2 separate regions of the Homo sapiens genome follow, and region 2 is linked to region 1. Evidence: fine-mapped expression QTL. Tissue or cell type: monocytes after Pam3CSK4. Region 1 holds a variant in brackets; the other region holds the start of a gene. All regions are shown on one strand. Distances are from middle to middle.

Region 1 (2,758 bases):
AGGGTTGGAAGTTGGACAGGAAGCCCACAGGGTCCACCACACAAGGAGAGAAGCCAAGACCCCCTGACTTCCAGGGGACCCATGGCTGGGGCATGCTTCAGATGGGGACACGGCCCCATGGGACCCATGAAAAGCCTGTGAAGTGTCTTAGTAAAAGGCCCACATGAACAAAGTCAAGGAGGAAGGCAGTTTCTGGTGACGAGGAGGTGGTCCTATGGCACATGCTGTCCCCACACAGTGCTACGTGTAGCTAGGTGTTCACTAAATGCTGGTCAGATGGACACTCCCTGCTGGCCGGCAGCCCAGGGGCTGGAACCACCTAAAACCTGGAGGGTGGGGTGGATACACAATGATGGGGGAACGTGATTCACGCTTGGGCTGAGCCGTCAGAAGTGCATCCAAACCAAGTTTCCAAGAGGCTGCTCCATGTCAACTACACATCCTAAAATGAAAGAGTTCCCACGCCTCCGCCACCATCAAGATCCTTAGCAGTGACAGCCGCAAAGACCTCAACCCCAAGATATTTCTGGGCTTTCACAGATGATGGGGTCTGGCTGATTTTTATCTTCTTCATCCGCCTGTGGTTTTGAGATGTCTCTGCAGGCATGCATCCCAGCTGGCCCCGTGTAGCCGCAGGAAGCTCCCTCTGTGTTTAAGCTCACAGTGAGAAACTTCTCTCATTCTGCAGGCATCTCCCTTGGTGAGTCACAGAGATTTCTGGCCACGGGCACAACCATGGGCACACACTTGTGTCCACTGCCAAGCAAGACTGTCTTTCCAGTCCACCGTCCACATGGCATCAAACTAATACGAAGGCTGAAGGCATTCCCATAATGGCAGACACCAAGCAATGGTTCCCCAGCATGGTGTGAAAGATTGATCCCGCAGGGCCAGCAGATGTCATTAGACAGGAAAGTTAAATGACGGGTAAAAGTTTTGGAAGGTGTATTAGTCCGTTCTCACGCTACTATAAAGAACTGCCCAAGACTGGGTAGTTTATAAAGGAAAGAGGTTTAATTGACTCACAGTTTAGCATGGCTGGGGAGGCCTCAGGAAACTTACAGTCATGGCGGAAGGGGAAGGAAACACGTCCGTTTTCACATGACGGCAGGAAGGAGAAGTGCCAATTAAAAGGAGGAATGCCCCTTATAAAACCATCAGATCTCATGAGAACT[C/T]ACTCACCATCACAAGAACAGCATGGAGGTAACTACCCCGTGATTCAATTACCTCCCACCAGGTCCCTTCCATGACTCGTGGGGATTATGGGAACTACAGTTCAAGATGAGATTTGGGTGGGGACACAGCCAAACTATATCAGAAGGGTAAGGGTAAACCATCACTATTTGCCAATGATAGAGAAGGAAAACCAAAGAGAATCAATGAAAAACTGTCATAATTAAAATAAGGTTTCAATAAGGTGACCAAAATAAACATACAAAAATCACACAGCTTTTTATTACAAACAGCTTGAAGAAATAGTCTTAGATGGGAAGACCACTTACCATGAAGACAAAGATTCTCCTGATGTGAATCTAAAAGTTAAACAAAACCTCCAGACAAACTCCAGAGAGCATTCTTTAATATGGGGGTGGGAGAATGCCCAGACTTGACAAATAACACCAAAGTTCACATACATAAGACATTTTTGGAAAAGATGAGAAACGAGGCTTTATTTGCTCCAACAGATATTAAAAGTATGAGAACCACAACCATGAAAACAACAGAAGCTGATGTGAGAAACAACACTAAAATTAAACAGTGCAGACACAGGTCCAGCGACAATGATTTTAGCACTCATACAGGTGGCATTTCGGTCAGTGCATGATGATTCAGTGGGCAAAGCATTTCAGATCCTTGTCTCATATCACACCTCGAAATACATTCCTGGTCAATTAAACACTGAAACGTACTCAGAGAAAAAGAGATGAAAGTGTAAATAATCTTTGTGTGAGAAAGGACTTTCCAAGCATGACCTCAAAGGCTAGAGCATAAGAGTCTTCGTTTTAAAATGTGCAGGCATTTCTGATTTAAAAATGTAAACTATAGCAGGTTACATCAAAAAGGAAAAAAATACAGTTAAATGGCAAATGATGCATGAGGAATAATGATTTACAGTGAATATGTTACAGGTTTGCTGTGCTTAATATGTACAAATATCTTACAAGCCAACAAAATATTTTCAAAACTAAATGCCTTCTTAGATAGAGAACAAGAATGGGCAGTTATCACAGCAGAACATATATGAACAGACTTCAAGCACGGGGGAAGGTATGTTCAGCCACAGTAGGGGCAATAAGAAGGAAATCTATACAGAAGACACCAATTTTATGTTCTCATCAGGTCGGCAACAGGCAGAGAACAAACAGGCCACTGCTGGCAAGACTCCTACATTCTAGAGGGAATGAGGGCTTCCTGTTGAACATGCTGGGAAGAGGAGACTTACCATGTGCTGTCTGCAGGCCGGGCTTTGTTGCTTTCATGCATTAACCCGTTTTAACGCCAACAACAGCAGGATGAGGAAGATTCTCTTATTCATTTCATCAGTGAGGGAAGTCCCACATCCAATAGACAGTGTAGCTGGTGTCCATCCAGGAGCCTGCCCTAGACTCTGCTCCCTCATCCCCACTTGTGGCTCTACCTGCCCCACTGCCTCCCACACTGCTGGTATAAGAAATCTCCCCTGTGCAGAGCATGTCTCAGCAAGCCACTGGGACCAACTCACGCACAGTGATGCATGTGCACGGATGGCTGCCACGGA
Region 2 (2,500 bases), 85 kb before region 1:
TCCAACTGAAGTCCAGCATTCATTCCTTTGGGGGTGCAGTTGACCCCAGCCAGCAGGGCCTGTGGCTCCACGGCCAGCAGAAGCAGTGTTTACATCCCCATGTTACCGCCCTCACCGAAGGTGTCTCCAGTGGCAGCCCTCTGCACAGGGCTGCTGCGAAGTGTCCACTGGTATCAGACGACAGACCGACCAGAACCTGCCATTAACATGCTGATAAAGAAGCCCATAGGCCACGCTGTCATGAATTGTTTCATGTATTTTGATAACTGTGTTTTGATAGAATTGTTCCCCTTTGTGACCCCATGGTCTTTGTTTTATGCGTTTAAATCTACTTGACGACATCGTTCTGAAAAGGACACCCAGGCTTCGCCAGGCAGCCCAGGGTACTAGGAACACACACAGTGTGAAGACCGCAGCTCCAGGCTGTGCGCGCGGCGTTATCTCCTGCTGCCCCGACCTGCTTTTGCTTGGGAGCCTCTGCCCAGGTCACGGCCAGCTCCCGCTTCCCATCCTTCCTCTTCAGGCTTGACATTCACCTCCAAGGGGGGTTCTGCCTTCTCTCACAACTCCGCAGCCTTCACCCCATCAGCTGACGCACTGTCACCAGATTCTGACTCTCGTGATGGGACCTGGGTCTGAAGGGGCCCTGCAGAAAATGCAGGAGCAATGATGAGAATGGAAACAGCTTCCGGTTCCGTGGACAGCGAGGACTCGGGAACACTGCTCAGCCATGGCCTCTGTGGTTCTTCCAACGACCCTATGAGGTTGAGAAATGCTGTCAATTCCCCTTTCCTGGAGGAGGAAACTGAGGCACAGAGGAGACTGGACACGGACAGACCCCTCCAGAGCGGGGAGAACGCATCCCCCAACGTTTCTGGGATAGGCTGGGCCCGGGGGTCCCCACCAGAAAGGACCCCTGCGTGTCTGTAGCCTCGGGTTTTCTCGACCAGGCCGACCAGAGTCCCAAGGCCTGCCGGGTGGGTCCAGGCCCGGAAGGCCAGGCGGGGCCCTGTCGGGGCCTGGGCGGGGCTGGCGGAGGGGCCGGGCCGCCCCTTCCAGCGAGGGCGGGCTGGGCGGTCGCCTTTAAAGGCGCGGGACCCGCCGCCCGCGGACCGTCAGGCTGGAGGGAGCTGGTCCCTGCGCTCCCTGCGCCCTGGGGATGCCCCTGCCGCCCTGACGCCCGCCAGCCTGAGCCACCGGCGCATGTGACCGCGCGTCCGCCCCAGTCCCATCCGTAGGCGCCCGGCGCCCGGCCCCGCAGCGGCCTCGTTGTCCCCGCCGGCCCCCGCCCGGTCTCCCGCGCTGCCACCCGCCGCCGGCCCTGCCGCCATGCAGGCGCGAGCGCTGCTCCTGGCCGCGTTGGCCGCGCTGGCGCTGGCCCGGGAGCCCCCTGCGGCGCCGTGTCCCGCGCGCTGCGACGTGTCGCGGTGTCCCAGCCCCCGCTGCCCCGGCGGCTACGTGCCCGACCTCTGCAACTGCTGCCTGGTGTGCGCCGCCAGCGAGGGCGAGCCCTGTGGCGGCCCTCTGGACTCGCCTTGCGGCGAGAGCCTGGAGTGCGTGCGCGGCCTATGCCGCTGCCGCTGGTCGCACGCCGTGTGTGGCACCGACGGGCACACCTATGCCAACGTGTGCGCGCTGCAGGCGGCCAGCCGCCGCGCGCTGCAGCTCTCCGGGACGCCCGTGCGCCAGCTGCAGAAGGGCGCCTGCCCGTTGGGTAAGCGCTCGGGGGCCAGGGAGGAAGTGAAGCTTCTTTCTCTTGGGGAAACTAAGGCCGGGAGTTAGGGCCGAGCTCGAGGTCGCCCTTCCCTGGGCACCACCGGGTGGCCCTTCAGAAATCATCCCACCAGCCCTCTGGTCTTTCAGATGAAGAAACTGAGGCCCGGAAAGGTAAACCGCTGTCCCCAAGGTCACAGAATTAGAGTCAAAAGGGAAACCCGGTGGTCTCCTGGCCACCCGAGGGGCCTCATCTAGGACTGTTTCCAGCTCTGGTCTCTTCAGAACTGATGTCTCGTGCCCATTCCCTTGATCCTTGGACCCCTGCTCTGTCCGGGTATTGAGTGAAGGGCACTCTTTCCTGCCCTAACTCTCCAGCCGGGGTGCCCTCTTGGGTGATGCCTTCTTTCCTGGAGACTGTGGTTAAGTGCATGTCTCCACAGGACTGTGTGGGAAGGGTCAGGGTGCAGGTCCCTGAACTGCTTAGGGCGCCCCAGGGAGAGGCTGCTTGGGGGAGAGAATGTCGGGGTCAGACCCTAGAACAGCCTCCCTTGAGGCAGTCGGCTCTAGGTTGCATCTCACCGTGCAGGTTGACTCTGTACGTGGAGGAAAATGCTGGAAAACCTGCTGTACCTTTTTCCCTGTTTGGGGTGCCTCTTAGGAAAGCAGACTCTGCTGTGGCCGGACAGGGGTTCACTGAAGACAGGCGACGGGCCCCAGGTTCATGGATAGGAGTCAGGGTCCTGCGTGCCATCAGCTTGCAGGTGGCAGGGAGAGATGCAGTAGC

What was found. PIP is the estimated chance that this variant, and not a neighbour inherited with it, causes the effect.
Region 2: it holds the start of HTRA3, and the variant in region 1 is fine-mapped to the expression of HTRA3 in monocytes after Pam3CSK4 (Quach 2016, PIP 0.95). The same link has a PIP of 0.9 or more in monocytes after R848.

The regions. Positions count from the first base shown.
Region 1 is chr4:8,353,663-8,356,420 of GRCh38, forward strand. It overlaps a transcript of ACOX3 not described here. Among named protein-coding and RNA genes, the nearest start is that of LINC02517, 35 kb to the left of the region's middle. RefSeq lists an enhancer at 1-177. The variant C/T (reference allele first, on the strand shown) is at 1,176.
Region 2 is chr4:8,268,640-8,271,139 of GRCh38, forward strand. It overlaps HTRA3 (HtrA serine peptidase 3), which reads left to right and starts at 1,115. Exons shown (of 9, transcript NM_053044.5): 1 at 1,115-1,714. The coding sequence starts at 1,330. It overlaps LOC105374373 (a long non-coding RNA gene), which reads right to left and starts at 1,542. Exons shown (of 2, transcript XR_001741572.2): 1 at 1,468-1,542; 2 at 1-757.